2 linked regions of the Homo sapiens genome follow. The protein of the gene in region 1 purifies or fractionates together with the protein of each later gene. This does not show direct contact. Each region holds a gene or a part of one and is shown in the gene's direction. Other genes may lie near its edges.

Region 1 (4,946 bases):
TTACTCAGTTACCACTTCCAGAATTTTTCATTCCTTTTTATATAGCCATATTTTCACCTGGTATCAATTTTGTTCTGCCTGAAGGACCTTTTTTTTTTTTTTAACATTTCTTACAGTATGACTGCCTGCCAGTGAATTTGATTGATAATGTTTCTCAATTCCTCTATATCCTTACTGATTTTTTGTCTACCTGATCTATCAATTACTGAGATAGGGGAATTAAAATCTTTAACTGTAATTGTGAATTTATCCATTTCTTCTGCAATTCTATCAAGTTTTGCTTCCAGAATTTGGAATTGCTCATTATTAGGTGGATAAGTGTTAAGAATTTTCATGTTTTTGATGAATTATCCACTTTATCCTTATGAAATGACCCTCTGTATCCCTGGTTGAATCACTTACTGTGAAACAGTCTTTGTCTAATATTAATATGTTAATATAATTAGTGTTAGCATGTGATTTTTTTCCATCCTTTTGCTTTTAGCCTATTTGTACCCCTATATTTAAAGTTAATTTTTAATAGATAGCATGCAGCTAATTCTTGCCGGTTTTGTTTAGTTTAATATTGTAGTCTGCCTTTAAAATGAGGTGTTTAGACCATTTGCACTAGTGTAATTATTGATATGATTAGGTTTCATGTCTATTTTGCTATTTGCTTTCTATTTGTCACATCTATTTTTTGCTTTACTTTGACTTATTTTTGGAATAATTGATTTTTTAATTCTATTTTACTTCCTTTGTTAGTATAATAGCCATAACTTTTTAAAAATTTTCAACTTTTATTTTAGATGTAAGGGGTAAATGTGTGGATTGGTTACATGGTTATATTGCATGATATTGAGATTTGGGGTACAGATCCTGTCACCCAGATAGTAAGCATAGTACCCAATAGGTAGTTTTTCAACTCACACATTCCTCCCCATCTCCCCCATCTAGTAGTCCACAGTGTCTGTTGTTCCCATGTTTATGTCCATGTTTGCTCAATGTTTAGGTCCCACTTATAAGTGAGAACATGTGGTATTTGGTTTTCTGTTCTTGTGTTAGTTGGTTTATGATTATGGCCTCCAGTTAAATCTATGTTGCTGCAAAAGACATGATTTCATTTTTTTATGTCTGCGTAGTATTCCATGGTGTATATGTACCACATTTTCTTTATCCAGTCTACCACTGGTGGGCACCTAGATTGATACCATATCTTTGCTATTGTGAATAGTATGGCAATGAACATATGAGTGCATGTGTCTTTTTGACAGAATGATTTATTTTTTTGTGAGCGTATACCAATAACAGAATTACTAGGTTGAATGGTAGCTCTATTATAAGTTCTTTGAGAAATCTCCAAACCCCTTTCCACAGTGGTTAAACTAACTTAAATTCCCACCAACAGTGTATAAGCATTCCCTTTTCTCCTCAGCCTCACCAGCACCTATTGTTTTCTGACTTTTAAGTAATAGCCATTCTGACTGGTGTGAGATAGTATCTGATGGTGGTTTTGATTTCCATTTCTCTGGAGATTAGTGATGTTGAGCATTTTTTTATGTTTGTTGGCTGCTTGCTTGACTTCTTTTGAGAAGTGGCTGTTCATGTCCTTCACTTATATTTTAATGGGGTTATTTGGTTTTTGCTTGTTGATTTGTTTAAGTTCCTTACAGGTCTCAACATTAGACTTCTGTCAGATGCATAGTTTCCTAATATTTTCTCCCATTCTATAGGTTGCCTGTTTACTCTGTTGATAATTTCTTTTGCCGTGCAGAAGCTCTTTAGTTTAATTAAGTCACACTTGTCAATTTTTGTTTTTGTTGCAATTGCTTTGGGAACTTAGCCAAAAATTCTTGGCCAAAGCTGATGTCAAGGATTGTATTTCCTAGGTTTTCCTCTAGGAATTTTATAGTTTGGAGTCCTACATTTAAATCTTTGATCCATCCTGAATTAAGTTTTGTATATGGTGAAAAGTAGGGGTCTAGTTTCAGTTTTCTGAATATGGCTAGCAAGTTATCCCAGCACCATTTATTGAATAGACAGTCATTTCCCCATTGCTTCTTTTTGTTAGCCTTGGCAAAGATCAGATGGTTGTAGGTGTGAATCTTTATTTCTGAGTTTTCTATTCCATTCCGTTGGTCTATGTGTCTGTTTTTGTATCAGTACTATACTATTTTGATTACTGTAGGCTTATAGTATAGTTTGAAGTTGTGAGGTGTGATGCCTTCAGCTTTGCTGTCTTTGCTTAGGAATGCTTTGGCTATTTGGGCTCTTTTTTGGTTCCATATGAATTTTAAAATAGATTTTTCTAATTCTGTGAAGAATGATATTGGTAATTTGATAGGAATAATATTGAATCTGTAAATTTCTTTGGGCAGTATGGCCATTTTAACAATATTAATTCTTCCAATCTATGAGCATGCAATATTTTTCCATTTATTTGTGTTGTCTTTATTTCAGCATTTTTTTTTTTAATTTCTCGCAGAGATCTTTCACCTCCTTTGTTAGCTGTATTCCTAGGTATTTCATTTTCTTTGTGGCTATTCAAAATGGAATTGTACCATTGATTTAACTCTTTGCCTGACTTTGTTGATGTATAGAAATGCTACTGGTTTTTGTACCTTAATTTTGTGTCCTGAAACCTTACTCTTGGCAGAGTCTTGAGGGCTTTCAAGTTAGAGAGTCATGCAGTCAGTGAAAAGAGAAAGTGTGACTTATTTAGCTATTTGGGTGCTTTTTATTTCTTTCTCTTGCCTGGTTGCTCTGGCTAGGAATTTCAGGACTATCTTGAATAGGCGTAGTGATAGTGGACATGCATAGTTGTGTCCCTTTTTCATTAATTAAAAAAAATTTTTTTATTTATGCATTAATTTTTATCTTTACCCAGGAGTTATTCAGGAGTAAGTTGTCTAATTTCCATGTATTTGTTAGTTTTGAGAGATCTTCTTGATATTTATTTCTATTTTTATTGCACTGTAGTCTAAGAGTGTACTTGGTATGATTTTTTAAAAAAATTTATTGATATCTGCTTTATGGCCCAGCATATGGCTGATCCTAGGATATGTTCCACATGCAGGTGAGAAGAATGTATATTCCATAGTTGCCGGATAGAATATTCTGTAGATGTGTGTTAGGTCTATTTGGTCAAGTGTCAAGTTTCTTTGTCAGTTTTCTGACAAAGTCCAGAGTTTCTTTGTCAGTTTTCTGCCTCGATGATCTGTCTAACTCTGTCAGTGGGATATTGAAATCTCCCACTATTATTGTGTGACTGTCCAGGTTTTTTTGTAGATCAAGAGGAACTTGTTTTATGATTCTGGGTGCTGCAATGTTGGGTGCATATATATTTAGAATAGTTAAGTTTTCTTGTTGGAAGCAATAATTATTTGTTTTGTTACTCTGGTGATTGCTTTAGGGCTTATAGTATACATCTTCAACTTATTGCTGTTTTCAAGTGAAATTATATTACTTATAGAAGGCTAGTCACACCTCCTACTTCCAAAATTACTTTTCTTTTTTTCCTCTCATTGTTTATCTGGGATGCCATTTTCTAATCTATAACATACTAAAAGAAGACATTTGAATCTCAGTGTTGAGGTTGTCAGTCAGCACAGCACCAGGAGAGAAAACTGACAATCATTTCACATGATCCATGTGAACAGAAGCCCAGGTGGTCTGTCCCCCAGACTTAGGGGAAGTGTTATTTTAAATAACAAACTCACTAAGGAATTAGGACAGTTCACCAAGCAGAGGGTCTGTGCTCTTCTTTTCTCAAAATCTTGCTTATTGTACCTCCTCATAGCAAAGTCTCCCTTCTCACCATTGACAAGACTTCTCAGGAAGAAGCTCAGACCTTCTACATTTTTCTAAAAGTTAAGGGCTCTGCTCCTTGCCTGAGTGAATCACTCCTAAAAGGAATGATAGGTTTTTTGACTCTATAGTAAATCTGGCTGTGTTGAAATTCCAGTAACAAAACTTGCCAACTTGATATTGGGCAAATAAGTTAAACTCACTAAACTCAGTTTCTTCATCTATGAAGTGGTTATAATAATAACAGTATCTACCTTTTAGGTACTATGACACAACCTAGGTAAACTGCTTAGCACCGTGCTGGCCCATATGTCTTCAAGGAATATTAGCTTGTATAATAAATAGCCACCTGTCTAGGTCTCAGTTTTCTCTTTTACAGATAAGGAGATAGACTGACTCCCAGATGCATTCTAGGTCGGAGCTAACCACCCACAGAAAAGATACTGGTTATTGACTGATGTGGATTGTGATTGCTCTGAGGAGATTCAGGACCAGATCCTGATCATACCCCTCTAGCTTAACTCAGGAGTCCCACTCCCTGAGGAACAGGGAGTTACTCAGTTATTTTTCATGAGAGTCAAGGCTGGTATGTTTATTTTGAGCAACGACTTGCATTCTCTAAGCCAATGAGACCGATTAGAGCCACAGATTTTAAAAAGGCAAAGGACAAGGATGGGAACCTGGATAAGGCTTGTATTGGGGCAAGCCTGAAAGATTCAATATTTCGGTGATGACGGAAACTTGCCATATTTTTAAGTCTGATAGATTTGGCTTCAAGGATAGACTTCTAACAGGCAATCTCCTTTTAGAAAATTGTCAATTTGTTATTTTTAAGTCCTCAAAGTAAATACTTTGTTCAGTTGTTTAACACATCTTTGTTGAATATTTTTAACTGCTAAGCATGATATTAGGAATACAAAAAAATTTAAGATGAGGTTTACAGCCTCAAGTAGCACACCCTTTCATGAAAGAGAGAAATAGAGGCAAATAGAAATAAATAATTACGAAACAATATAGTAATTTTAATATTACATGGTCTTATGTGCATGGAGACAGTTTACTTAATCCAGCCTGTTGGCATCAGGGACAGCTCTGGAAGAAAGATAAATCGGAGCTAGCCAAGTGAAAGAGAAGGAGAGAAGAGGTGTGGAAAAGCCATT
Region 2 (4,469 bases), on another chromosome or scaffold:
AGGAAGCAGAGATGTTCATTGTTCTATATACGTACTTCTACTTAATCATGTCCTCTCCCTTTAACCTCTTCACTCCTTGGTTCCTGGTGTCTCTTGAGTCTGCAGTCTCTCTTCTTCGTCTTGGTCCTTATCCAGTGGGAATTGGGGGGCAATAGTTGCTGGGGCTTAATGGATAAGAGTAGGAATGCCAGGGACTGACTGTTGACACTTTCTAATACTCCTGTTTCCAGCCCAACCTCAACCCTACTATTGCTACTTTTTAAACCTAGCTTGTCAACATTTCCAGGGTATTTGAGGCTCATTGGCTGCTAGTTGTTGTTCTTTTCCTTGGCACCTGCTTAGGTTTGCCCTGCCTCCTGTTTGCTACATCATTTACTATTCTTCTGTTTTTAGTCTGTGTGTTATGGTTTTAGTTAAAATATGTCTGCTGGACTTTTCAAAGATGGTATGTGTATATATTTCTCTTTGTTCTTCTCTTTATTGTTTTGGGTTGAGCAGAGTGAGGGCTTGAATTGCTGTCATTTTTAAGTACACTGTCTTCTCAGTTTTATTGTAAACATCTCATTAAATCTTCAGGATCTGACTTGATTCTATACAATATTCATTCACTGAATGTTAATGATGAAATTTCCAACTCCAGTTTCACAGGTTAAAAATTTATGTCATTACTCTTGGAATAATGTGGGAAATATCTTGGGAACATGTGAAATTGTGAATTAGGTAAAGTTAATTTTGGGAACACTCTCCCTGTATCTGTCTTTCTGGTATTATATCTTTCCTACCTAAAATCTAAAACTTTAGAACCTCTCTCTTCCCAAGTGATTAGATCGGCAGTTATTCAGTTGTTCGAAAAAGTCTGCTTGAAATGACAGTTCTCAAAATTAAACACATATGTACCTTAAACATTTTATTTCAATTTAAGACATATATGTACATTTATTCAACAGTCTTTTGATATAGAATCAAGGCCTTTTCTTAGAGTAGATCACTTACTAGAGTTCCATTTTAGTAATGCAAACCACACACACCCCAATGCATCAACTACATTTCTTAGTCAGGTTTATTGAGGCATAAATTTACCCTTATTAGGTGTACAGTTGTGCAAATTCATACAGTTGTATGAATGTTGAAAAACTTGTATGCTGTGGTGGTAAGAAACCACCAGAACACATTGACACTATCCAAAAAATCTTTTATTTTGCCCCTTTTTAGTAAATGCTCTACCTCCATCCGTAGCATCTGGTAACCCCTGATCTGATTTCTGTCTCTATATTTGTGCCTTTTTCTTGAGTGGCATAGAAATGGAATCATATAATCTGTAGCCTTCCCAGTTTTCTGCCATTGTCATGTTCTTATCTAACGTACCAGGTTTTTTGGCTCATCTTTAGAAATTTGCCTTTCTAAAAGCGAAGTCTTTCTAAAGCATTCACTAATTTTTGTTTGTTTTTGTTTTTGGTTTTTGAGATGGGGTCTCACTCTGTCACCCAGGCTGAAGTGCAGTCGTGTGATCTCAGCTCACTGCAACCTCTACTTCCCAGGCTCAAGCGATCGTCCCACCTCAGCCTCCCAAGTAACTAGAACCACAGGCATGCGCCACCATGCCCAGCTAATTTTTGCATTTTTGGTAGAGACGGGGTTTTGCCATGTTGCCCAGGCTGGTCTCAAACTCCTGAGCTCAAACCATCCACCTGCCTCGGCCTCCCAAAGTGCTAGGATTACAGGCGTGAGCCACTGCTCCCGGCCAGCATTCGCTAACTTTTAAACCTTCATTATAACTATGTGTTTACAATAGCAAATGTAACTGGAATAAACAGTTTCAGAGATGAACCCAGTTGACTGTGATAAGCACACAACTTAGCTGGCTGGAGTAGACATGTACTAAGTGTAATGTTTCCCTTGTATTTACATAGAAGAAGGGAGAGCATCAGCTAATGTGGTGAACTAGTAAGGGGAGGCAAGTTAGGAGCGTATCACTTGCATGCATTTCCCACTCCACTAGGGCATTTCTACCAGCTACTTGGAATCTAGTCATCATAAAAGTAATAACTGACACTTTGAAATTCGCTTTTCTTATAGTAATTTAAATTTTCATAAGATCTGTTTCAGATTTAAAAGATTTTAAGACCAGGGGTTTTGAAAGTTAGAGGGTTTTTTGTTTTTGACTTTACTGACTTACTTGACCTTCCTGAAATCATACCAGGAAGATAAATGTGTATTTGTAAGATTATCTAGACTGCTCTTTAGTATGGAAGAGTTGAGATGTTTATTTCAATTAGTTGCTTTTAAAAATATTGTTTAGGATTTGAAAATTTTTGTATTTGATAATTAATAGTTTAAATCAGTCAAATTCAAATTTATGGAAGTATAATTAGAATAAGACTGTAGCAAAGTAAAGAGAAACAAAAAAATTACTGAATTTGGGTAACTTTCCTCTGAATAAATACATTTTTTAAAAGTAGACACTTGTTTTTATAACTTTTCCATTATTATAATAGAACTAGAAAAAATGCCAAATAAGTTTTTAGTAAATATGAATTAAATACTAAATATGAAGATTATTGGTGCCCGACGGAATAGTTTTGGTGAAGTAAAAACAGGGATTGCCTGGTCGCAGTTTTTTGATAACAGGAAGTAGAGCTATAGGTTGCTTATTACGAATATTATTTATTGAATTTTGCATGTACAGAGAGATTGGGAGCATGAATGATTTTGGACGTGTTGGTCTATTAGAATTGTATATTTTTATAAACCTTTTTAGTAACTAGTATAAGGAAGTAACAATGGAATCAGCAATAGGGGACTGAAGTGCAGAGTCTTTTTTAAAATTTATAAACAAAGGTTTGATTGACTCACAGTATTGTATTGCATGGCTGGGGAGGCCTCAGAAAACTTACAATCATGGAGTAAGGCAAAAAAGCGGGCACCTTCTTCACAAGGTGGCAGGAGAGAGCACTCGGGAAACGGCCACTTTTAAAACCATCAGACCTTGTGAGAACCTGCTCACTATCATGAGAAAAGCATAGGGGAAACTGACCCAATGATCCAATCACCTCCTACGAGGCCCCTCCCTCAACACATGGGGATTACAGTTCGAGATGAGATTTGGGTGGGGACACAGAGCCAAACCATATCATTCTGCCCCTGCCCACCCCCCAAATTGCAGGTCCTTTTTACATTTCAAAACCAGTCATGCCTTCCCAACAGTCCCCCAAAGTCTTAACTCATTCCAGCATTAACCCAGAAGTCCAAATCCAAAGTCTCGTCTGAGGCAAGGCAAGGCAAGTCCCTTCCACCTATAAGCCTGTATAATCAAAAGCAAGTTACTAATGAGGGTCTTATGAGATGTCAAGATCTTGGAAAAGGTGGACCTTTTAAGTACTGCATATTTATTTTTCAAAAACCAAGGCCTAAAGAGGCCTTAATTTAGATAGTGATAATTCCTTGTGCCTCTGGGTGGGAGTATAAAGGAAAACATATAACAGAAGTTTTTTATTTTCTGGAATATTTATTTCAGGATGGCTCCAGAAGTTGCAGCTGTTGAGAGGAAGGGGGGTTACAATCAACTCTGTGATCTCTGGGCAGTGGGAATCACTGCCATAGAACTTGCAGAGCTTCAGCCTCCTATGTTTGACTTACACCCAATGAGGTCAGTGCATCATCATTGAAGAATCTTACGCTTAAGGTTTTTATCCTCTTAGTATGCTGTCATGAACAAGTAATTTTCTTAGTCTTGTTTTACCTTATTTGGGGAACAAATAGTAATAGAATTTGTGTAATAGATAAAAATGTGAAATATTAAAATGCTGTGTAATGATTTGTTGATTTTTCAGAGCATTATTTCTAATGACAAAAAGCAATTTTCAGCCTCCTAAACTAAAGGATAAAATGAAATGGTAAGTATTTTTATGTTATTTACTTTTATGGTGAGATGAGCAAAAAATGAATTGGAATGTAAAAGTCTAATTTTCTAAATTTCTTAGGTCAAATAGTTTTCATCACTTTGTGAAAATGGCACTTACCAAAAATCCGAAAAAAAGACCTACTGCTGAAAAATTATTACAGGTATTATTTTTGCCCTGAAATATATATATATATTTCAAAAGATAAAATGTTATTCAATCAGATTTATAGTAAGTGTTCTGCATTGTATTTAATTTTTATAGCATCCTTTTGTAACACAACATTTGACACGGTCTTTGGCAATCGAGCTGTTGGATAAAGTAAATAATCCAGATCATTCCACTTACCATGATTTCGATGATGATGATCCTGAGGTAGGAATTGCTTTTACCAGCGGGCATATATAACATGTATATGTGTATGTATATATGTGTGTCTGTATGTACGTCTCAAAATCCATTTTTTTAATTTTGGGGCCTAGTTTAAATAAAAAAGCTCTTGAGGGAACAATTAATTCTTTGTCTTTGCCTTTCATGGAAAGTCAAATGCTAGGTTTTTCTTACTGACTA

The links.
Region 2: the proteins of FCRL3 (region 1) and MAP4K3 purify together in Homo sapiens (affinity purification with mass spectrometry; one large-scale study listed by BioGRID and IntAct). This does not show direct contact.

Annotation. Positions count from the first base shown.
Region 1 is NC_000001.11:157,683,770-157,688,715, reverse strand, and holds part of FCRL3 (Fc receptor-like protein 3 isoform 1 precursor), read left to right. Parts: intron 1-4,946. UniProt on the Homo sapiens protein: Promotes TLR9-induced B-cell proliferation, activation and survival but inhibits antibody production and suppresses plasma cell differentiation. Enhances activation of NF-kappa-B and MAPK signaling pathways in TLR9 stimulated B-cells.
Region 2 is NC_000002.12:39,325,323-39,329,791, reverse strand, and holds part of MAP4K3 (mitogen-activated protein kinase kinase kinase kinase 3), read left to right. Parts: intron 1-3,514; coding exon 3,515-3,646; intron 3,647-3,830; coding exon 3,831-3,893; intron 3,894-3,980; coding exon 3,981-4,062; intron 4,063-4,163; coding exon 4,164-4,274; intron 4,275-4,469. UniProt on the Homo sapiens protein: Serine/threonine kinase that plays a role in the response to environmental stress. Appears to act upstream of the JUN N-terminal pathway.